Homo sapiens: one gene and its partners. The protein of the gene in region 4 purifies or fractionates together with the protein of the main gene of each other region. This does not show direct contact. Each region holds a gene or a part of one and is shown on either strand. Other genes may lie near its edges. The genes, in order: HIVEP1, ZMYM2, GTF2I, RNASEH2B, RABGAP1L, DMAC2L and VBP1.

The links.
Region 1: the proteins of RNASEH2B (region 4) and HIVEP1 purify together in Homo sapiens (affinity purification with mass spectrometry; one large-scale study listed by BioGRID and IntAct). This does not show direct contact.
Region 2: the proteins of RNASEH2B (region 4) and ZMYM2 purify together in Homo sapiens (co-immunoprecipitation; one study listed by IntAct). This does not show direct contact.
Region 3: the proteins of RNASEH2B (region 4) and GTF2I purify together in Homo sapiens (co-immunoprecipitation; one study listed by IntAct). This does not show direct contact.
Region 5: the proteins of RNASEH2B (region 4) and RABGAP1L purify together in Homo sapiens (affinity purification with mass spectrometry; one large-scale study listed by BioGRID and IntAct). This does not show direct contact.
Region 6: the proteins of RNASEH2B (region 4) and DMAC2L purify together in Homo sapiens (affinity purification with mass spectrometry; one large-scale study listed by BioGRID and IntAct). This does not show direct contact.
Region 7: the proteins of RNASEH2B (region 4) and VBP1 fractionate together in Homo sapiens (co-fractionation; one large-scale study listed by BioGRID). This does not show direct contact.

Annotation. Positions count from the first base shown.
Region 1 is NC_000006.12:12,123,812-12,127,311, forward strand, and holds part of HIVEP1 (zinc finger protein 40), read left to right. Parts: coding exon 1-2,059; intron 2,060-3,500.
Region 2 is NC_000013.11:20,084,227-20,087,726, forward strand, and holds part of ZMYM2 (zinc finger MYM-type protein 2), read left to right. Parts: intron 1-1,595; coding exon 1,596-1,788; 3' UTR 1,789-3,500. UniProt on the Homo sapiens protein: Involved in the negative regulation of transcription.
Region 3 is NC_000007.14:74,664,218-74,667,717, reverse strand, and holds part of GTF2I (general transcription factor II-I), read right to left. Parts: intron 1-3,500. UniProt on the Homo sapiens protein: Interacts with the basal transcription machinery by coordinating the formation of a multiprotein complex at the C-FOS promoter, and linking specific signal responsive activator complexes.
Region 4 is NC_000013.11:50,944,291-50,947,790, reverse strand, and holds part of RNASEH2B (ribonuclease H2 subunit B), read right to left. Parts: intron 2,365-3,500; coding exon 2,259-2,364; intron 1-2,258. UniProt on the Homo sapiens protein: Non catalytic subunit of RNase H2, an endonuclease that specifically degrades the RNA of RNA:DNA hybrids. Participates in DNA replication, possibly by mediating the removal of lagging-strand Okazaki fragment RNA primers during DNA replication.
Region 5 is NC_000001.11:174,278,020-174,281,519, reverse strand, and holds part of RABGAP1L (rab GTPase-activating protein 1-like), read right to left. Parts: intron 2,908-3,500; coding exon 2,741-2,907; intron 1-2,740. UniProt on the Homo sapiens protein: GTP-hydrolysis activating protein (GAP) for small GTPase RAB22A, converting active RAB22A-GTP to the inactive form RAB22A-GDP. Plays a role in endocytosis and intracellular protein transport.
Region 6 is NC_000014.9:50,318,824-50,322,323, reverse strand, and holds part of DMAC2L (ATP synthase subunit s, mitochondrial isoform a precursor), read right to left. Parts: intron 1,762-3,500; exon of another isoform or gene 948-1,761; intron 842-947; coding exon of another isoform or gene 837-841; coding exon 730-836; intron 1-729. UniProt on the Homo sapiens protein: Involved in regulation of mitochondrial membrane ATP synthase. Necessary for H(+) conduction of ATP synthase. Facilitates energy-driven catalysis of ATP synthesis by blocking a proton leak through an alternative proton exit pathway.
Region 7 is NC_000023.11:155,229,960-155,233,459, reverse strand, and holds part of VBP1 (prefoldin subunit 3), read right to left. Parts: intron 1-3,500. UniProt on the Homo sapiens protein: Binds specifically to cytosolic chaperonin (c-CPN) and transfers target proteins to it. Binds to nascent polypeptide chain and promotes folding in an environment in which there are many competing pathways for nonnative proteins.

The DNA of each region.
Region 1 (3,500 bases), on a different chromosome or scaffold from region 4:
AAATAAAGCCGAGTTTCTTATGATTCCAGCTGGCTTGAATACTCTGAATGTTCCTGGATGTCACCGGGAAATGAGGCGTACTGCATCAGAACAGATTAATTGCACGCAAACGTCAATGGAGGTCTCTGATCTCAGAAGCAAATCATTCGATTGTGGAAGCATCACCCCACCCCAGACAACACCACTTACTGAATTGCAGCCTCCATCTTCACCTTCTCGAGTGGGAGTGACTGGGCATGTGCCTCTCTTAGAAAGAAGGAGAGGCCCACTGGTACGGCAAATATCTTTAAACATAGCCCCAGATAGTCATCTGTCTCCTGTACACCCAACATCTTTCCAAAATACTGCTCTTCCCAGTGTGAATGCAGTGCCATATCAGGGGCCTCAGCTCACTAGTACATCTTTAGCTGAGTTTTCTGCAAATACTTTGCACTCTCAGACTCAGGTTAAGGATCTGCAGGCAGAAACATCAAACTCCAGCTCTACCAACGTTTTTCCTGTTCAACAGCTCTGTGATATCAATTTGTTAAATCAAATCCATGCACCGCCTAGCCACCAGAGCACACAGCTATCTCTGCAAGTGTCTACGCAGGGTAGCAAGCCAGATAAAAATTCTGTTTTATCTGGGTCTTCTAAAAGTGAGGATTGCTTTGCTCCCAAATACCAATTGCATTGTCAGGTTTTCACTTCAGGCCCATCTTGCTCTTCTAATCCTGTGCATTCTTTGCCAAATCAAGTTATTTCAGATCCAGTTGGAACAGATCATTGTGTGACATCAGCAACATTACCAACCAAATTAATTGACAGCATGTCTAATTCGCATCCTCTGCTACCACCAGAGCTCAGGCCCCTTGGAAGTCAGGTGCAGAAGGTGCCATCATCATTCATGCTGCCCATACGCCTGCAGAGTAGTGTTCCTGCTTACTGTTTTGCTACACTCACATCCCTGCCACAAATACTAGTGACCCAAGATCTGCCCAATCAGCCAATTTGCCAGACTAATCATAGTGTAGTGCCAATCAGTGAAGAACAAAATTCTGTGCCAACATTACAAAAAGGTCATCAGAATGCTTTGCCAAACCCAGAGAAGGAATTTCTATGTGAAAATGTTTTTTCAGAGATGAGCCAAAATTCTTCTCTATCAGAATCCTTGCCCATAACTCAGAAAATATCTGTTGGTCGACTTTCCCCTCAACAAGAATCTTCAGCTTCGAGTAAAAGGATGCTTTCCCCAGCAAATAGTTTAGACATTGCCATGGAAAAGCACCAGAAGCGGGCCAAAGATGAAAATGGAGCTGTTTGTGCAACAGACGTGAGACCTTTAGAGGCTTTGAGTTCGAGAGTTAATGAAGCTAGTAAACAGAAGAAGCCTATTTTAGTGAGACAGGTTTGTACTACAGAGCCCCTGGACGGTGTGATGTTGGAAAAGGATGTTTTTTCTCAACCTGAAATTAGTAATGAGGCTGTTAATTTGACAAATGTTTTACCAGCTGATAATTCATCAACAGGATGCTCTAAATTTGTCGTTATAGAACCTATAAGTGAATTGCAGGAATTTGAAAACATCAAGTCATCCACATCATTAACTCTTACAGTTCGAAGTTCACCTGCTCCTTCAGAAAATACTCATATTTCTCCTTTGAAATGTACAGACAATAACCAAGAAAGGAAGTCTCCAGGGGTTAAAAATCAAGGTGACAAAGTGAACATCCAAGAGCAAAGTCAACAGCCAGTCACTTCTCTTTCATTGTTTAACATCAAGGACACCCAGCAGCTGGCTTTCCCTAGCCTGAAAACTACAACCAACTTTACATGGTGTTATCTCTTAAGGCAGAAGTCGTTGCATTTGCCTCAGAAGGACCAGAAAACTTCAGCCTATACTGATTGGACAGTAAGCGCCAGTAATCCAAATCCACTCGGTTTGCCCACAAAAGTTGCACTTGCTCTCCTTAATTCAAAACAGAACACTGGAAAATCACTATACTGTCAAGCAATAACTACCCATTCCAAGTCAGACTTATTGGTCTATTCAAGCAAGTGGAAAAGCAGCTTAAGCAAGGTACTTGAAATATAATTTATCTTCAGATATGGTTTGCGCAAATTTGTTTCCATGTGTCTTGATACCTTTAAATATTTTAACTGGAAATATTTTAATTTTGAGTGACAAATTGTGCTGTAAATGTCTTATTTGAAAGACAGGGTGATATATTTACCCCAGGAGTTACATTGATAAGAGTTACCAAGAGTCTTGCAGTGATTCTATCTTGAAAGATTTTAGAAATGATTTACCCTGAGCACTTTTCTTTTTCTCAGCTAACTATATAAGTCTTTACTTAGTAGTACAGATGATCATGGTTTTACTTTGATGTTTTACTTATATTGAGGTTTTGTTTTTCTTGTTAAGTGAAAGGAAATCATGGTTATGCTTTGTTCCTCCTCATGCAGGGAAACAGGTGTAGATAATCAAAGATAGTTGTATTTCATCCTGAAATATAAGCAGAAAGCCATTTAGACTTGTCTTGAGCTTACTAGCTACACGCCCCTGTCATGCTATGTAGCTGTCTTCCAGTGTAGCTGTGAGAACCATTAGCACTAGAGAGAAGTTTCACAAAATAATTCATATACTTGGTAAGTTGATTTGGTCAAGATTTATAAAGTAATTTAAGGTCATGAAACTGTAACTTGGGGTAATTTGTGGAATCAGTCTCATTAGAATTATCAGCTTTATAAAATGGGAAAAAGTCATTTACTTGATTAGAATAATAGGTAAGCATATCACGTTCGACTCTGCATATTCAGAAGTATTTGGCCTCTGCAGATTCATAAGCATGCAACACAGGTTAATAAACATTTACAAATCTGTCAGTAGGAAAATACTGCAGTATCAGTATTACCATAGAATTATGAACAATTCTAAAGAAGGAAGTTTCTAACATTACTGGTAGGTGGAAGAGAGAAGAATTCAGCAAACATACTCCAAAGGTGGTGATACTTTAGCTAACTGTTCAAATTTTTTTTAAAAAAATAGGGATTTTTCAGGCAAAGAAGAAGCAGCTTTTTTTTTCGAGACAGAATCTCACTCTGTCACCCAGGCTGGAGTGCAATGGTGCGCTCTTGGCTCATTGCATCCTCCCCTCCCGGGTTCAAGCAACCCTCCTGTCTCAGCCTCCTGAGTAGCTGGGATTACAGGTGCCCACCACCACGCCTGGCTTTTTGTATTTTTGGTAGAGACAGAGTTTCGCCATGTCTGGTTTGGCCAAGCTGGTCTTGAACTCCTGACCTCAGATGATTCACCCATCTTGGCCTCCCAAAGTGCTGGGATTACAGGTGTGAGCCACCGCGCCCAGCAAGAATAAAAAAAAAAATTAATAATACACGAAATGACATGGAAATGAGAATAAACTTGGTTCATTTAAAGAACTCTGAAGAGTCTGGCCTGGTTAAAAAGAGTTATAATTTGGAAACATAGGTAAAAATCAAATCATGTGTATGGTGGTGGA
Region 2 (3,500 bases), about 31 Mb from region 4:
GGTCTTGAACTCCTGACCTCAAGCCATCCTCGTGCCTCAGCCTCCCAAAGTGCTGGAATTACAGGCATGAGCCATTGCGCCTGTCATTGTCTTTTAAATTACAGCAATTCCAATGACAGCAAAGCAAGGGACACAAACTTTTTCTTAAACGGTCAGATGGTAAATATTTTAGGCTTTTGGGCCTATGGAATCACTATTGTAACTAATCGGTTCTCTTGTGACTAGAAAGCAGCCATATACTATATATAAATTCATGGCATGTGGCTGTGTTATAATAAAACTTCACATAAGCAGGTGGCTGGCTGTAGTTTGCCAATGCCCGGTGTAAAGGTATGCTCAAAGGTAGTATAGATAGGTGGAAATGTAAGTGAAGTATTTACATTTAAGAGAAAACAGTCAAGCAGGTATGAAAAATGGAATCATGTTCTGGAATTTTTTTTCCCCTCAATCTCAGACCAACAGGCATTTTAAAAAGTTTAAGCCAATAAAACGTTTAGAGACCATAGATTATTTTATGCTTGCCTGTTGTTTTAAGTAAGCACTCTCTAATTTTCAGAAGGTCAGCATGAATTCAAAATGTACTTCCCTGTTTAAACAAATTTATAAATCACAGGTCCCCAGGATGGCCCTCAAGGACTTGTAAAAACAATAGTATCATGTATAGGATGATATTAGTACAAGTTGAATGCGCCTTATCCAAAATGCTTCTGACCAGAAGTGTTTTAGATTTCAGATTTTTTCGGATTTTGGAATATTTGCATATACATTATAAGATGTCTTAGGGCTGGGACCCAACTCTAAACATGAAATTCATTTATATTTCATATACACCTTATACATGTAGCCTGAAGATAATTTTATTTATGCATAGCCTGAAGGTGATTTTATTTTCCCCTTGGGGTTGCTGAATAACCTGTGTGTTATGTGCCTGTGTTTTGGGCGCGAACTCCTCACATGAGGTCAGGTGTGGAACTTTCCACTTTTGGTGTCATTTTGGCAAAGAGTTTCAGATTTTGGATTTTTGAATTAGGGATGCTCAGCCTGTATTTCTCACCATGGTTTAGGGTGGTCCTATTTGGCTGCAGTAGTGTCAGGGTCTTCAGTTGGTAGTAACTATTTGTTAGTAGGAAATTCCTATCTCACTATTACCTTGTTGGTATTTTAAAAATTGAGTTTCTATTATGTAGTGCTGTAAGAATTTTTTAATTTTATGTGCTGCCATACATATTTCATCAATTCTAAGACATTTTCACATTTCACTATTTCTGAAACTGGGATGCACAGTTTAAATTGTTGCATCTTGAAATCATAATTGGCAGTGTTTCACTTGCTTAATGGTAGCATTAAAATAATGAGTGGTGTGTCTATTGATAGTGTCTTGGATTTAGTGAAGTAGAATTAAAATTGTGGGAAATAATCTCTATCTCAGAAAATAACTTTGAGAATATTTTAATGACAGAATAATGGAGACAGTGGGGCATAGGGGGTCTGGTCATATAACGTGATTAATGGGGTCTGAATTATTCTTGAAAAAAGAAAAAGTTGTGGAAATTTTGTGAAATTGACTTTTTCTCTTTTTCCTCCCGCCTCCAAAGTCCACAGAATCTTAATCAGAGGATGGATGTTTTTTATTTGCAACCAGAATGCTCTAGTTCTACAGATAGCCCTGTCTGGTATACGTCTACTTCACTGGACCGAAACACCTTGGAAAATATGCTTGTACGGGTTCTTCTAGTAAAAGATATTTATGATAAAGACAATTATGAACTGGATGAAGACACAGACTAAAAAGGAACGTTGCAGAAGCAATCGGGATAAAACAGCATTAGATAGTCATGCTGCTAGATCTTTATTATGGAAAACATTTCAAGTTTACTCCTTCTGTTTTGAGTTTTGTAGCAGTGTACCCACGCTGGGTATTACCATGTAAATAATCTGTGAGTGAAAGTTGCCATTATTCTATGTAGTGGTTTTAGGATACTTAACAAATACATTCAAATTCTTTTTTTATTATTATTTATTTGATTAGGTATGTTTGTAACTTTTTACATTACAGAATATGAATGAGAATGTGCCATGTATAATTTTTTTCTTGTAGTAAGAAACATCCATATTGCACAACTCTACTGTTGCAAAGCTTCCTTGGAAGGGGGCTCTTTTACTGGGTTCTTAACCAGATGGTTGTGTATGGGTAGCACTACTAAAAGTTTAGAACTTGCAGTGTCTTTCGGAATTTTTAAAATAAACTGTAAACTAATAGGCTGGGGTTTTTGTTTTGTTTTGGGGTTTTGTTTTGTTTGGTTTTACATTTTAGTTACTGAAGCCTTACAAGGTTATGTAGAGAGATACCATCTTCTGTACCAAAAATAGACAAGAGAATGCTGTCAATATTGGTGTACTGTAATGTGAATCTATGCTGGTGAAAACAATTTTTTGTTCCCCTTATTAAAACCTTAGTGTCCTTTTCTCATTTGTGGCTTTCTGCATCACCCAATCAATAAAAAACAAATATATATATGTATATATATGTATGTATGTGTGTGTGTATATATATATATATATATATATATATAAATGATTGTAAGTTGAAAACAAGATCATCAAGACATTTCCTTTGTAAAAATGTCTGGTGAAAGTATAAAATTCTGTTTTCTTCTATGCCAGCCATAAGTATCTGAAATCCTCTTCATTTATAGAGGTTTGATTTTTATTTCTTTTTTTCCCTCTTAAGGATACAGATCATGCTGCAATGTTAGCTGTGTAGTACTCTAAAACTTAGCAATTTTATCAGAATTCTTGTGCCTGTTTACATTGGATAAAATTGTTTTTAGAAATTCCACTCCTGAAATAGTTACAGAAAGTCAAGCTATGTTAAATAAGATAGGATCACATTTTATAATGAAGATTACCAGTGTAGTAATTCTGATATTGCAAATGATTGAGGAACAAACAAAGAAACTAATAGAGAAAGTCAGTCTCAGAGGAAATCCCATTTAATGTTAGATTGTTTGGCTTTTGAAATTACTTCTTATAGAAGATTGCATTAAAAAAAAAAACAACTTTGTGCTTCTGCATAGCAATTTATCCATTCAGACCTTTTCTTTTAGAATAAGGAAACTTAAAATCTACTTTCTAAAGACTGAACAAAGTGCTAGCTGCAAATTATCTTGAAATCATTTGGCTCTTTTCTAGCATGTGTGTAATCATGTTTTCTTCTGATTCCTGAATGACCATGGTAGCATTAGTGTTTAGAAATTGTTCAGGGGAAAATTGAGCTATTTTCCATAGTGGCTAGCAATTGCTACACATCCTTAGATACTCCTCTCTCCCATAGGATAAATGTTACAGCACACAAAAGAAATTTTCTCAATTCTGATTTGGAAAATTTCACAGGTGTCATTATTGTATATCTAAGCAATAATTATCTGAATGTTTTGGCATAAAAAATTATAATGTTCTAACTTGTTTTATAAGTTGAATGACTTTTCAGTCCCTTGATT
Region 3 (3,500 bases), on a different chromosome or scaffold from region 4:
AGTGAGACCCCCATCTCCACAAAAAATAAAAAAATCAAGCCAGACGTGGTGGCATGCACCTGTAGTCCCAGCTACTCGGGAGACTGAGGTGGGAGGATGTCTTGACCCTAGGACACGAAGGTTACAGTGAGCCAAAAGCATACCACTGCACTCCAGCCTGGGCAACAGAGTGACATCCCGTCCCTCCCCCCACAAAAAAAGGTTAAAATGGTAATTTTTGTGTTAAGTATATGTTACCACAATTTAACAACAACGACAACAACAAAAAACACTACAAGGAACCACTCCAAAGAAAGGCATTCACGGTGTAAATGGCAGACACAAATTTATTCTTCATAAAGGAACAAATTCATCTTACAGGATTTTCTTTTTTTTGAGATGGTGTCTTGCTCTGTCGCCTAGGCTGGAGAGCAGTGGCAAGATCTCGGTACACTGTAACCTCCACCTCCCGGGTTCAAGTGATTCTCATGCCTCAGCCACTCAAGCAGCTGGCATTACAGGCACCTGTCACCACTCCCAGCTAACTTCTGTATTTTCAGTAGAGATGTGTTTTTTTGTTTGTTTGTTTTCCTTGAGACATAGTCTTGTTCTATGGCCCAGGCTGGAGTGGAATGGCGTGATCTTGGCTCACTGCAACCTCCGCCTCCAGGGTTCAAGTGATTCTCCTGCCTCAGCCTCCCGAGTGTCTGGGATTACAGGTGCGCACCACCACGCCTAGCTAATTTGTTTTTGTTTTTTGAGACAGAGTGTCACACTGTCACCCAGGCTGGAGTGCAGTGGTGCGATCTCAGCTCACTGCAAGCTCCGCCTGCCGGTTTCACACCATTCTCCTGCCTCAGCCTCCTGAGTAGCTGGGACTACAGGCACCCGCCATCACGCCTGGCTAATTTTTTTTTTTTTTTTTTTGTATTTTTAGTAGAGACAGGGTTTCACCATGTTAGCCATGATGGTCTCGATCTCCTGACCTCGTGATCCACCCGCCTTGGACTCCCAAAGTGCTGGGATTACAGGTGTGAGCCACCGTGCCCGGCCAATTTTTTGTATTTTTAGTAGAGACGGGGTTTCACCATGTTGGCCAGGCTGGTCTCAAACTCCTGACCTCAAGTGAGTCATGGCCTCCCAAAGTGCTGGGAGTACAGGAGTGAGCCACCACACCCAGCCAAAAAAAATTTTTTTTAATGCTTACCGGGGGGGAAAACGAAGAAAGAAAACGAACAGGAGGAAGGAGTAACACTAATGAATCTTGCAGGGTCTATTTCTCTGCCCTTTCCTCATATGGACATAATACATGCCATCGTCCTCCTCTGTCAAATTATCTCACAGATGAGATCATGTAATTTAAGTGCATTAAAGTCTAATGCCAAAGCCAGTTACTAATTTTAGTTCACTTCCAATACCTTATTTATTTTCTTGAAACCAATTACGGTCTGAAAACTCAATCTAGATAAAATTCTACTCACGTCATGTATGTGTTATAGTCAACAGTAAGAGCTAAATTTCTAGATATAACAAATTAAAATGAACAACATATAAAGCATACATTCTCAGGTTTCATCAATCCAACTGTCAAGCTCTGGCCAGGCGCGGTGGATCACGTCTGTAATCCCAGCACTTTGGGAGGCTGAGATGGGCAGATCACCTGAGGTCAGGGGTTCCAGACCAGCCTGGCCAACATATAGTAAAACCCCTTCTCTACTAAAAAATACAAAAATTAGCTGGGCATGGTGGCGCACGCCTGTAGTCCCAGCTACTTGGGAAGCTAAGACAGGAGAATCACTTGAACCCGGGAGGCAGAGGTGAAGGTTGCAATGAGCTGGGATCCCGCCACTGCACTCCAGCCTGGGTGACAGAGGGAGACTCCATCTCAACAAAACAAAACATAAAAACAATGTAACAGTCACAGGGGAAAATCCCACAGAGGAATAAGTCCTTGCCCTTGCAATTCATATTCTCCAGAGTTCTTGGAGATTAACGTCATAGTCGATATTACTAGTAAAATTTTCGCTTCCTCAATTTCCCAAAAGTCTTTATAATAGTACTTTTATGACTAATATTTCTTGAGTGTCTACTACATGCCAGACAGCAACCTAAGCACTTAAACTCTATCCTTGCAACAGCTCTTAGAAGCGAAACATGTTCTATTATCAACTCCATTTTTAAAAATAGGGGCCAGGCGTGGTGGCTCAGGCCTGTAATCCCAGCCTTTGAGAGGCTGAGGTGGGCGGACCATCTGAGGTCAAGAGTTGGAGACCAGCCTGGCCAACATGGTGAAACCCTGTCTCTGCTAAAAATACAAAAATTAGCCAGGTGTGGTGGCGCATGCCTATAATTCCAGCTACTCGGGAGGCTGAGGCACAAGAATCACTCGAACCCGAGAGGCAGGGGTTGTAGTGAGCTGAGATCATGCCACTGCATTCCAGCCTGGGTAACAGAGCAAGACACTGTCTCAAAAAATAAAAATAAAAATAAAAAATAGGCCGGGCACTGTTGGCTCACACCTGTAATCCCAGCACTTTGGGAGGCCGAGGCGGGTGGATCACCTGAGGTCAGGAGTTCGAGACCAGCCTGACCAAAATGGAGAAACCCCGTCTCTACTAAAAATACAAAATTAGCCAGGCGTGGTGGTGGCACATACCTGTAATCCCAGCTACTCAGGAGGCTGAGGCAGGAAAATCGCTTGAACCCAGTAGGCGGAGATTGCGGTGAGCCAGGCGCGCCACTACACTCCAGCCTGGGCAACAAGAGCAAAACTCTGTCTCAAAAAAAAAAAACAAAAAATAGGGAAACATACAAAGATGAAGTGAAATGCCCAAGGTCGCACAGGCAGGAAACGGCAAGGGCCAGGACTGGAATCCAGGCAGTCAGACTTCAAACTTGTGTCGCTAGCCATAAGCTATAAACCCTCTCTCAATTTATAAATTTGTCTTCCCTCTCATGATATATTTTTTAAGTAACTAGTTCTTTAAAAATCCTACATAGAGTGTTGGCCAGGCGTGGTGGCTCATGCCTGTAATCCCAGCACTTTGGGAGGCTGAGGCAGGTGGATCATTTGAGGTCAGCAGTTTGAGACCAGCCTGGCCAACATGGTGAAACCTGTATCTACTAAAAATACAAAAATTAGCCGGGCATGGTGGCACACACCTGTAATCCCAGCTACTCAGGAGACTGAGGCAGGAGAATCGCTTGAACCTGGGAGGCGAGAGTTGCAGTGAGCCGAGATCGCGCCATTGCACTTTAGCCTGTGCGACAGAGGGAGACTCCTTCTCAAAAAAACAAAAACAGAAACAAGTTACAACCAAAGGAGAATGAGTCAATCCTCCAACAACTCTGACAGTTCCTGGCTATACTGAACTTTCTCTTACTTTCTCAGTAGGCCAAAGTGGTAAAAAGCAAATGAGTACTGCCAGAAACAGGCATGGAATACCAAAACAAGAATTTTACAGAGGAGAAAACAAACAGGAAGACAGCAGGGAGAGTTCCAGAACAAAAGGACAACAGTA
Region 4 (3,500 bases):
GATGAGATATGACATGTGATGATACCAAAGATATAAGATAAAACAAGTATAATACAGTAGATGCTCCCTAAATGACATTAAAAACAAAAACTCAGGGTTGCTTTCTTATTTGAAACCACTGAATACAAATAAAGTTTAAAAATCATCTACAACAATATGAAATAGTCATGTCTTTTTTAAAAGGGTAATCTTTTCTAAGCCTGCTTCAATAAAGAATAAATCTAATTATTCAACAGTAATGAGTGTACTCATTTAAGAGAAATAAAATACCATGTCTCTACTACTAGGTATTTGCTTTATAAGAACCCTGAAATATATATATATAGTTCTATACATACATATTGTTCTATATACATAGTTCTACATACACACACACACACACACACACACACACACACACACACTCCCAAACTAATAAAATACTTAAACTTAAACAACTAACTCAGCAGAATTTATCATCATTAATTCTAAAGCATTTGGATTCTCAGTACTAAAATGCAGCTCTGGCAGCAATTAGAAATACAGTTACATAAGAAGACAATAAAATGTTTCAAAACTCTGTTCCTGAATTCAGTATTTTATGTAGAATACAAGCAGATAATCAAACTTAATCATAAGATGGGATAACCACGTGGGGATATAAAGCACCAAAAGCAGACCCCAGGTTTGCTGCTGGGATATTCACTCACTTCCTTTTTTCCATTCTCCTCTGCTCTCAAGTCAAAGTAACAATTTGCCTCAGTATTACATAGAAAATGACTGCCGTCTGGGGACCACCTGATGTCAAAAAGTCTTCAGTAAGAGATTTTCATTGTCAATGGAGAACTGAAAGTTATCATTTGACCCTTCTTAAAATTGCTCATGGATCTGGGATAGTCATTATCCAATGAGTCATGACTAGACCAAGAAAACTATTTTAAGAAAGTCAACATATAGTTCATTTGCTGCTTCTGGTACCAAACCAACCTAAATATCTAAAAAATGAAATAATGTAAAATATGTAAAGTTTACTTTATGGTCAGGACACTAAATGGCAATATAGCCAAGCCCAGAACCTTAATATGTAGAGTACTGGTAAAAGCACTAGACTTAGAACAGAAGATCTTGAGGATAAGTTACCTACCTCTCCATTTAAAAAATGAGATGATCTGTCTAAATAACCTCTAACATCCCTTCTCCTACTTTTAAAACAAAATCTATGGTTCCATCCATCCATCCATGGATGCATCTATCCACCCACCTATCTATCCATTAATCATCTATCTCAATCCCTCATCTTCTATTGTTAAAGCCAATTAAAGACACTGACAGCTGGTAACTCAGTATGGCAAAGGTGCTGTCCACCACTCCCAGAATGGCAGTAGCCAACTACCTATACATGCAAGGTAGATTCCTGCAAATCAGATTGCCTGAATTACTATCAATCACAAACAGGCCACTATTCCTAGTTTTTATTTATGTAATGACTAAAGCCATATGTATACCCTGAATAAGGGAACAATGAATTGGAGTTTAACGTCAGAATAATTTCTGTCTCACCATTTGAGATTGTTAACTGCATTATATAGCTGTTCTTATTCAACTATACATATAAAAATAAGAGGACTCTACTTGGAAAAGAAAATAATATACCTTTTTTAGATTATAAAAGAATAACCTAAAAGAAAAATTGCCAAGTAAATCAATTTTCATCTAAAATCAAAATATATTGATCCCTGTATCAGGAAACATGCATCTTGAGAAGAAAATGCAAACAGATGCAGCCACTGGAACAGTACAACTGTGCCACAGGAACAGTATCACAAAAAGATTACAAGTGTGGGCTTCAGAGACAAGCTCCATAAGTAGCTCAGCTTTGGCATTTACTAGTTGTGAGACTTTGCACAGGGCCTCAAGATGCTCATTATGAAATTTACTGGGAGGGTTGGATGAGATCATGTTTGTATAGTGGCAACTTAGCAAAGGGCCTGGCACACAATACACCCTCAATAAATGATAGCCAGGGTTGTTACTACTATCAATGTAAAAGAAATATTTGCTGAATAAATAACTTAAGTATCAATGAATGACAGAAGTAACCTATGGTAGAAATATTCTTCGCTTCTGAAATAAGATGCACACCTGCCACAATGTGTATGAGGCATTGGTAGGAATATGAGGCTTCTGTGATATTAAGATTTTTAAATCCTAAGATAGGCATTTACACATAAGCAACTTACTCCAGACAAAAATCTTTTCTGATAAAATGCTTTACTTACCTTCCTTGTCAGTGGAAGCTTGGTCACCAGAGAAAAATGCAGTTGACTGTACCCGGGAACTGACATTCACATTATTGGTTTTTAATGCTGCCACAGTTTGATTAACCTATGAAGCAACCAAGAGGGGAAAGGCAGGGTATTTTCAACTTAACTTTAGAAATCTATGAATTCATAGGTGGCCTTCAGACCATTTAAGAGATCTGCAAAGAAGTATTTGAGAACCTAGAAGTATCTTCACCAGACACCAGAAGATGAGAAATGGTTGCCCATTTGAAGAAAGGCTGAGTGGCAGCAATATCTGGATGATCTCAATACATGGACTTCCATGGCCTACACAATATGAGAAGGCAACATATTGTGATAACTGAGAGCTGACTCTGGAGTCAGGCTGCTGGGCTTGGCTCTGTAACCACGGCTAGTTACTTAACCTTTCTGTGGCTCTATCTGTGAAATGGGGGAAAAAAATAGCATTCACCTCATAAGACTACTGTGAAAATTAAATGAGGTAATATATGTAAATAAAGCCCTTACAATAGAACCTGGCACAAAATTTATATGTAATAACTTCCTAAATAGAATAATATAAATTTCCCACTTCCTAGGAAATATAATCAGTAAGTATAAACTCCTCTTCGCTATTCATGTCATTTTCCTTGGCTAAGAGCAAAAGTAAACATCAAGGATTCTGCTCCGCATTTATTCTCATTCTTCGCCTACATGGAATACTACTACTACTATATCACAAATAAAAAATGAAACATGGCACTCTAAATCTTTCCACTACTTTGCACATTAGGAGACTGATTATTCTACTGGACTCATTTCCAGCTTCCCAGGCTTTCAATGAGCCTGGTAACATGGTATGACAAATAAACACAATTTATTTATTATTTATTATTATTTATTTTTATTTATTATACTTTAAGTTCTGGGATACATGTGCAGAACATGCAGGTTTGTCATACAGGTATACATGTACCACAGTGGTTTGCTGCACCCATCAACCCATCATCTAGGTTTTAAGCCCCACATGTATTACATATTTGTCCTAATGCTCTCCCTCCTCTTGCCCCTAACCCCCGAAACAGCCCCGGTGTGTGATGTTCCCCTCCCTGTGTTCATGTGTTCTTACTGTTCAACTCCCACTTATGAGAGAGAACATGCAGACAAACATGACTTTTCACACAAAAGATGGAAGAGAATCTTAGGAAACAGTACTACAACTACTGGTATCCACTGATC
Region 5 (3,500 bases), on a different chromosome or scaffold from region 4:
CGGGTGGGACTTGGAGAACTTTTCTGTCCAGCTAAAGGAGCGTAAACGCACCAATCAGCACTCTGTCTAGCTAAAGGTTTGTAAACACACCAATCAGCACTCTGTAAAAACGCACCAGTCAGTGCTCTGTGTCTAGCTAATGGTTTGTAAACACACCAAACAGCACTCTGTAAAAACAGGCCAATCAGCACTCTGTAAAATGGACCAATCAGCGCTCTGTAAAATGGACCAATCAGTGCTCTGTAAAATGGACCAATCAGCAGGGCGCAGGCTGGGCCAAATAAGGGAATAAAAGCTGGCCACCTAAGCCAGCAGCAGCAACCCGCTCGGGTCCTCTTCCACTCTGTGGAAGCTTTGTTCTTTTGCTCTTCACAGTAAATCTTGCTGTTGCTCACTCTTTGGGTCCGCACTACCTTTATGAGCTGTAACACTCACCGCGAAGGTCTGCAGCTTCACTCCTGAAGCCAGCAAGATCACGAACCCACCGGGAGGATCAAACAACTCCAGACACGCCACCTTTAAGAGCTGTAACACTCACTGCAAAGGTCTGCGGCTTCACTCTTGAAGTCAGTGAGACCATTAACCCACCAGAAGGAAGAAACTCCAGACACATCTGTACATCTGAAGGAACAAACTCTGGACACACCATCTTTAAGAACTGTAACACTCACCGCAAGGGTCCGCGGCTTCATTCTTGAAGTCAGCAAGACCAAGAACCCACTGAAAGGAACCAATTCCGGACACAAAAGGACTTTCTCTAGTTTACTTTCCCAGCCTCTAGTTTACTTTCCCAGACTCTAGTTTCCATCCTCTTGTTAAGTGCTCTCCTTGCTCCCAGTAAATGGACAATGAATGAAATGAAATGCCATTTGGCCCTGAGTGGACAGTAAACAGGAACAAAGCAGACTTTCATACATCCCCACTGCCCACACATAAAGTTCTGCTATATTTGAGAGAAGAAAGTTGCCAAGAAAAAATAGTTTGGGAACAGGGCATCTCATGTACTTTGGTGTTGCCCCCAGGAGTCTGGTCTAATCCTGTCTGGGTACAGGACAAGTTCTGGTTTCATTCAATAAGTTCAACACTCTCAGAATGAAAGAAAAAGTTCTAGGTGTCTAAATCACTTAGAACTGAAATCAATGCATTCTCTCTTTATTTCTTTAAAGTAGTAATGGCCTGGACCCAGATTTTCAAAGGTTACTTTGAATTGCATTAGGTAATCACCTAATTCATTCTTTCTACCAATGTTGTATAGTGTAGACCAACATCTCCAGATTACCATCAACCACCCCAAACCAACCCACCTTTTGGAGGTGTAGAAAGAAGCTAGTCTGGCCTTACAGCAGCATATTCTGGCTTAAGGTAAGGAGTTATAGTCTCAGGTCTTGCAATAATTACTTACATGAATTTTAACAATTACTTTAATGTCTCTCTCTCTCTCTCTCTCTCTCTCTCTCTCTCTCTCTCTCTCCAGGCAGACAGACAGTCAAAAGTACTAGAACTGGGAAAAACCTAACATTTTCTCAGATCTCTAGGAGGTATAATTTACATTATAATTTATCATCATTAGAAGAATGACAACTTTCTATACAGCTCCAGCTCCTTTATTCACGATTATGCAACTATGAATAATTCTTTGGCTCAAAATGAAGAATTATTGGATAGTCATAACTAAGCTATTTTTTTAAAAAAGAAGGATGGGGAGGAAGGAAGACAGGAAAAAAGTCTCATAATAAAATATTAAAAGATGCTCAGGAGACTGAAGTTTGAATATTGCTCACATAACCTTCATTAGAATATGCTATAAAAGCAGTTCACACAGTAATAAAAACTGAGTCAAATAACAGCCATAATAATTTTATGAAAGATTTTTTTAAAACCACAATAATTTCCAAGTACATAGTATATAAAGCCGAGATGCGCCATGGCAGTTTTTTTAATATGAAAATGGGTAAGAGGCTTCTATATTTGTTTCCTGTACTGGTGCCTGCTTTTATCACACAGCAGTCCACATATTATAGTATATGAAGCAGCAAGCATTTTAAAACTTGGGAGAATGAAAGTACTAACAAAAACAGCATATAAAAGATGTTCATTATTCTAATAGAGCATTTTTATCCTGATTTTTTAAAAACTCACACAATTAGCATTCAAGTTATTTTTCATTATTATCTGCTTCCTTTGCTATAATACAAAAGTTACATATTTTATCTACTAATACTGCCTAATTTGAGGATATCATAGAAACCATAATTTTGTTCATTTAATATTAAAATAATTTTATAACCTCACTGATGAGTCAAACAAGATGTTCATATAATATTGTCTATCTAATATTACAGGCAGAAATAACTATAGAAATTAGGTATTTCTTAGAAACATTTTCATTAAAATTTTATAAGCATATGATATTTCTGTGCACTGCCTTTTTGGTTTTAAGTAATTGTTTATAAAAGGCAGAAACGTTGTTTTATATGCAGTCAATATTTCTGTTAAGAAGGTTCATACATTACAGGTTTCTAGGGAAAAAGTATGTAATTATTAAACTTGCTGGGTTTTTTTAGCTAATATTACCTAGATGTGACTTTTTCAAACACTCTATTGGTTGACTTCAAATATCATTTGATTTCTTTGAGGAATTGTATTGTTTTGCAACTTCAGGAATTATCTTGGCATTAAAAAAGAAGTGTGGAAAGAAAAATGTTTGTTACTATATATGAAGAGAACAAAAAGGTCCTACCTGTTTCAATCTCATGAAGAAAGTCTCTGTGAAAGTCTTTCTGCTGAAATACCAAAATCGCTCATTTGCAGGGTACACACGGACTACTGTCTCCAGGAGAAAGCGAACAGGCTCCACCACCTCTGTGACTACCATATCCACTGCCACAGTCATGTATACTTGCTTATCTGTAGTAGAAATTTTCTGGGTTTTATGCGAGCTTTATTATTCCTTGTCTACTTTAAACAAAGTTTCCTCACTTATGAAAGAATTAAAGTTCTTTACAATTGTAATACCTTCTATGTTTATTTTTAACTGTTCTATTCACATTTTGATTAAATAAGTATGCAAGTACTCCAAGCATGTTTCTTAGGAACTAATAATCCTAAGTGTTTGTTGTTTTGAGACAGAGTCTCACCCAGGCTGGAGTACAATGGAGCGATCTTGGCTCACTGCAACCTCCGCCTCCAGGGCTCAAGCAATTCTCCTGCCTCAGCCTCCCAAGTAGCTGGGATTACAGGTGCCCGCCACAACACCCAGCTGATTTTTAAAATATTTTTACTACAGACGGGGTTTCACCATGTTGGCCAGGCTGGTCTCAAACTCCTGACCTCTGGTGATCCACCCCCATCAGCCTCCCAAAGTGCTGGGATTACAAGCGTGAGCCACCACACCTGGCCTCATTGAGGTTTTTGAATCTATGGCCTGGTCATTCCATACCATTTTGTAATTTCCTCATTCCTTTTTAAATATTTTTTAAAATTTATTTTCTTTACAATTT
Region 6 (3,500 bases), on a different chromosome or scaffold from region 4:
GACTTTTTTAGTTTTGTTTTTGTTTCCACGTGAACGCTGTCAAGGCGTATTATTTTTATATGAATTTATCAGACACAACGTTTCATTGATTCACATATAGTACAGTGCTTGACACCAGAGATACTTAGTAACTATTCTACGAATGACTATACTTGGTTAGAATTTGTATTAATAACAAAAGATTAAAGAGAAAATAATTCTGAATCTGTGGTCAAATTAATCTCATTAAGTGATATTTATTAATTTCTACATATGCTTTTTTCTCTAGCTAGTGATCATAATGCTGTATTAAGTAATTAGAAGGTTAGTTTCAAGTTTCAAAATGACATTTCTAAGTGTGCCACCCACTAATTTTTTGAAAACCCAAGTTACTTTGATAGAATTCAAAAGGTTAACTACATTCCTTTAAAAAGCCATAAAAATAAAATACTTTAAAATTATATTTAATAAGTTTTTCTGATTATAAAATGTTTTAGAAAACTTGAAATATATCAAAAGGACAAGTAAGAAAAATCATCGAAATCCTGCAACCCAAACAGCCACAATTAATATTTTGTAATCTGTTTTTCTGGTGTTTTTTCCATGTTTGTGTGGGTTTTGTTTGTTTGTAAACAAAATTAGGATCACACTGCACAAACTGTAAATATGAGAAATAGCCAAACAAGCTATTGGGAACTTATTTAGCTGTAACCATCTCCACATTTCTTCACTTTATTTAGAGTAACTTACTTATTAAACACTGCATTCAACCAGCCCCAGAAGTATCTGGAGTCACATGACCATGGGAGTTTCTTTACGCCACACAACTGCTGGGAAATTTTTCCAAACGGCATCATTTGATCTAGACACACAAAACAGTACTTACATTAGATCATCATCCGAGTCCCATACATATAGCAACTTACTTCAGAGTCAATGCTCTTGTACTGATAAAGCTGATGACTCACTTGCCACTCAACAATTACTGAGCAAGTCACTCCTGTTTCTTGTTCTTGGGGTTTTTTATTTGTTTGCTGCAAAAAAATGAGGGGTTGGACTGGATGGTGTCTAAGGCTCCTTCCGGCTAGAACGTTAAGTTCCACTGTTGAAACCTCAATTGGAGTCTGCCTGTCGTACTGCCATCTAGTGTCCATTCAGGCGCTGTAGCTATGAATTTGCTGAAGCTGGCTCCTCTATTCCCCATCTATATTTCCAGCATCAAAATGACAGACTAAAATCACCGAAAGAGCAACGTGTCAAGGTTAAGATGCTTGCATCCAGGAAAGAAGAGGAGACATGAAAATAGATCTACCTATGACAAGGCTGCAAGTGGTGTTACCAGAGCAGTGTAAACAAAAAAACTGTTTTAAGGGCAGCTGGGAAAGACTGGGCAAGTAACTTCACCTCTCTGACCTCTGGTTTTCTCATTTGTAAAATGAGATGATTTGCTTAATTTCCAGCTGTCAAAATGTATAACCATAATTTGAGAAAGTGATTCCTGGAGTAGGTTTCGATTTGATTGACCTCAATTCAAGTTTCCCTAGTAGTATGCTAGGTGTGTGCAGGGGACTGGATGTGGCAGGGAGGAGGAGATGGGGAGACAAAGATAAATGAAACATGGTGTTTGCTTTGAGCATCTGACAATTTAATGCAGGATGGAGTGGGCTAAGACACGTTATCAAGTAGTTAAAATAAGTGACAGAACTTGATAAATGCCTCAAAAGAGTTAAAATAAGGACAGAAAGGATTTCAACAAACAAAGGTGCCAGGAAAAATTATGCCAGATTATTAGCTGAAGCAGGAACATTTAAGGCATGTTATTTTCAGTTTCACTAGCACATGTGAGTCATGAGAAGAGGCAGGCAACTTGCACAGTCAGGTCGTGAAGTGTTTTGCATGCTCAGCCAGGGAATTTGGACTGTATTCTGTATGTAGCAGGGAGTCACCGAGGTTTCTGAACAAAGCACTGGCCCTTTGGGAGGCCGAGGCAGGCAGATCACGAGGTCAGGATATCGAGACGATCCTGGCTAACACGGTGAAACTCTGTCTCTACTAAAAATACCAAAAAATAAAAAAATAAAAAATTAGCCAGGCATGGTGGCATGCGCCTGTAGTCCCAGCTACTCGGGAGGCTGAGGCAGGAGAATCGCTTGAACCCGGGAGGCAGAGATTGCAGTAAGCTGAGATTGTACCAGACTGCACTCCAGCGTGGACAACAGAGTGAGACTCCATCTCAAAAATAAATAAATAAATAAAATAGAACAAAGCATTGGCATTGTTACGGTTGTGCTTCAAGAAATTGACTCAGCAGCATCAAGATTAAGGGTCAACAGAATGGGACAGCCAGTCAGCAAGGGCTTCAATCACATGAGGCCATACGAAAGGGCCTAGTTGGGGAAGGATGGGAATGACATTACATAGTTAGTTCCATATGACTCAGTTAAGTGAGATGTAGGGGCAAGGGCTAGAGGAGTTGAAAATGACACCAAGTTTTGGCCCTGGGTCACTGGTAGTAGGATGGTGATGCCATTAAAAGAAATCACATTAGGAGAACAGGGTTATAGGTTCAGATTTTTTTCTTTTAGTTTTTCATAATCTACATACTAAGTGTTAGCAGGATTTCTAAGTGCAGATGACCAACAAATCATTGGAATCAGAGGTCACAAAACATTAGAGCTGTAAGGAATTTAGATCACCTGGATGAAATCTCTCATTTAGAGGTGAGGAAACTGAAGCCCTGATATTAAGTAACTTCCTGACATCCTAAATCCTTTCTGAAACAAGGTGGGGTATTAATAAATGCATGTGTTTAAAGGGACTTGCTCAATGTTTCATGACTAATTGGTGGCAGTGTTGAAACCTGAACCCAGTTCTCTACCAGCCCAGGGTCCTTTCCTCAATCATTACATGGTTCTGGAATTCAAGAGAAAGAAGAGGACTAGAAAGATGCCTGAGAGGGAAACACCTTAAAGCTGAGGAAGTGATTGAGGATGCTGAGGCCGTGGAACAGTGAGAGATGTGAACTGAAGACAGAACCAACTACCCTTTCATCCCTTTTTCACTACAGCCGTCTTCATTACTGCAAGCCTCTGCTCCACTACCTCTTATCATGTTCTCAACCCTTTCCAACTTTTTGTTAAAGCGCTCTCTGCCTGTGCCCACCTTGAATAACTCTATTAGTTGTCAATCTTATTTACAAATATGGGCTTTCCCAGCTTCTACTCAGGCTGTTTTCTCTTAGCCTCCCTCCCCCATCACCATCAATCTGTGGAAATCCCACCCAACCTCAAGACCTTACTCAAATGCCATGTCCATTCATTCATTCGCTCAAAAAATGTTTATTGAATGTCTGCTATACTTAGTGCAAAGGCAACAATGGTAAGACAAAACAAACAAAAACAAGAACAAAGGAGAAAGAGACACACAGAAAGACAAGGTTCCTGACCTCATAGAACATATAATTTAATAAAGAGAGATAACATATAAAGAGATAAATAACACCCAACGTGGTTGGATAATAG
Region 7 (3,500 bases), on a different chromosome or scaffold from region 4:
CTTTTTCTGGCTGGCAGCAGAATGAGAAGTTTGAAAGATCTAAAGTGTAAGAAAGACTAGTCATATCACTGCTTTGAAAACAGAAAGGACCATGAGCCAAGGATTGCAGGTGGCCTCTAGAAGCTGAGACTGACTCCTGGACGACAGGCAGCAAGGAAACAGGGACCTCAACCACAGAGAACCGGATTTTGCCAATAACGTGAATAAGGCTGAAATCTAATTCTCCCCCAGAGATGCTAGTAAGGAATACAGCCCTGTTGACAATTTAATTCTGGCTTTGTGGGACCCTGCACAGAGGACCCAGCCAAGCCCATCTGGATTTCTGACCTATACAGCTAGGAGATAATGGATATTGTTTTAAGCCTCTGAGTTTGTGGTAATTTGCTATGCAGTTTCTTTCACTCAACCTTGTTTGTGAAAATCACCCTTGCAGTGCTGGCGTGTAGCAGCAGTTCATTCCTCCTCTGTACTGTATAGTATTCCACAGTCTGAACACATCATGATTTACTCATCCATTCGACTATGATGAACATTTGGGTTGTTTCCAGGTTTTGGTTACTACAGAGTTGATATGAACATTCTTATACCTTTCTTTTAGTTAATATTTATACATTTCTTATATACAGCAAGAGGCAGAAAGAGATAGAGACAGGCATGGAACTGCTATGGCATAGGCAATGCATATGTTCTGCTTTAACAGATACTGCCAGTTTCCCCAGTGGCTGTGTCCATTTACACCTTCACCAACAGTAAATCAGTGTTCTCACTATTCCATGTCCTACCATCACTTAGTATCACCCTACCATTCCGGTGGGTACACAGTGAGATCACATTGTGCTTTTAATTTGCATTTCCCTGTTTACTAATGAAGTGGGACAACTTTTCATATGTTTACTGGCCATTGGGAGGCCCTCTTTTTGGAAGTCACTCACCCATTATCCTGAGGAGTTGCTTATCTTTCCATGTTATCCTTAACAAAAAAGTTTTCTAAAAAATTTAAGTATATAAATATTAGGAAAAAAATGTTTGCAGATTTGGTGAAAGGAGTACACTGTTAAGATAAAATTATAAATATCTGATAAAGTCGATTACATTAAAATTTAAAACTTCTAAGAGCTACCACAAAAGACAAGTGACAGATGAGAAAAAGTATCTGCAATATTAAGAGAAGACTGTGCATCCGAAATACATAATATATAAAGAAGACCTAAATGTCTATCAAAAAAAAAAAGAAAAAGAATCCAACAGAAAAATGGAGCAACAACATAGTCAGGAAGGGAAACAGAAGAGGAAATACAAATGAGCATTTTGTCATACAAAAACCTATAAGATGATACTATTTTCACCTATAAAACTAGCAAAAATCTAAAAATGTGGGTGAGACTGTTAATAAAAGGGTATTTTTATATACGGTTGGAGAAAATGAAAATTGGTAGTCTTTTCTGGAGAGCAATTTGATAGTATCCATCAACATGTTAAATGTGCATACTCTTAGACACAACAATTCCATTTCAAAGCAGCATACAAAAATATGCCTTTGTATACAAGTCTATATGTGCAAAAATATTTACTACAGCACCGCTCACTGTACAAGAAATTTTAAAACAATCCAAACACCCCTTGACTTGGGAATATTATCACATAGCCCTACCACAGAATAGTAAGCCAATAAAACCAAGGAGGCAAACTCTGTGTCTACTCACAAATAAAGACATCTGTGCTGAACAATATACAATATATATCCCATTTTTGTAAAAACAATTAACAAAATTCCAAATATTTAGGTACATACAGATGTACAGACATGATTAAAAGTGGGTGCATCTGGGGATGGAGCAGTAGCCTGCTGCTTTCTATTTGCTCTTTGAACCATTAGCATGTATGAACTCTGATGAAAAACTAACAAAAATGTCATTCACCCAAGAAAAATTTTTACTGAGCACTTATTATGTGTCAGGGAACTGGTAAATACACCAATCAATAACATATCAGGGAGTGCTAAGTACTTTGAAGGAAAACAATACAAGATAAACAGTACAAGTGAAACCAAGAAATGCTGACAGACAAGTCATAGCAGGTCCCTGGGGGAGCTAACAATCAGAACTGAGAACTCAAAGGATTGAGTGTGAAGAACACAGAAGTAGAAATGTGGGGCCACACTGGCAGGTTCCAGGAACAGTTAGGGGGCCACCATGGCTACAGCAGAGTGAGCAAAAGAATGAGCATAAATGAGTGCTGAGAGGGAGTAGGGCTGTCCTGTGGAAAGGACACCTCTGTATTCCACCCTTGGTGACAGGGAAACCACTGGGGTCTTGAGCAGAAAAGCGGAATCATCTGACATGTTTTAAAAGCACTACTCTGGCAGCTTAAGCAGAAGAAAGAGCTAGAATAAAGGTTCTGAGGCAGGGCCATTCCCAGCATGCTCTAAGTCTGGCAAGAAGTCCAAGTGTGGCCAAGCGAGGAAGTAAGAGAAGAACAGAGAGACTGGACACGGTGGCTCATACCTGTAATCCCAGCACTTTGGGAGGCCAAGGTGGGCAGATCACCCGAGGCCAGGAGTTCGAGATCAACCTGGCCAAAATGGCAAAACCCCGTCTCTACCAAAAAATTTAGCTGGGCATGGTAGCACGTGCCTGTGATCCCAGCTATTCAGGAAGCTGAGGCACAAGAATCGCTTGAGCCCGGGAGACAGAGGTTGCAGTGAGCTGAGATCACAACACTGTACTCCAGCCTGGGCAACAGAGTGAGACTCTGTCTCAGAAAAAAAAAAAAAGAGAGAAGTAACAGAGAGTACCAGGATGTATAGGAACTTGTCAGCCACTCAAAGAACTTGGACTTTTCCTCGGAATGTGATAAGAAACCATTCAAAGATTTTGGGCAGAATAATGGAATGACCTGATTGAGATTTCAAAGGATTAATCTGACCACTGTGCTGGAAAGACTTTAGGAATTCCAGCAAGGGCAGAAGCAAGACAGTGAATTAGGGTATTATTATGGGTTAAACAGTGTCCCCAAAAAAGATACATTTAAGTTTTAACCCCTTATACTAGCGAATGTGACCTTACGTGGAAGTAAGGTATTATGGATTGAATTCTGTCTCCCCAACAAAAAATAAGTTGGACTACTAACCCCCAGTAGCTCAGAATGTGACTTTATTTGGAGATAAGGTCTTTCAAAAGGAGAAATTTGGACACATGCATGCACACATGTGAAGATGAAGGCGGAGATCACAGTGATGCTTCTACACATCAACATGCCAAAGACTGTCCGCGAACACCAAAGCTAAGAGAGGAGGCTAGAACAGATTTTCCCTCACAGCTCTCAGAAGGAATCGACCCTGATTCTGGGGCTCATCACGGACTTCTGGCCTCCAGAACCATGAGACAGTCCATTTCAGTTGTTAAAGCCACCCAGTTTGTGGTAATTTTATTATGGCATCCCTAAAAACTAATAGACAGTATTCCCACAGTCCTGGCAAGAGACAAAGGTGGCCTGGACCA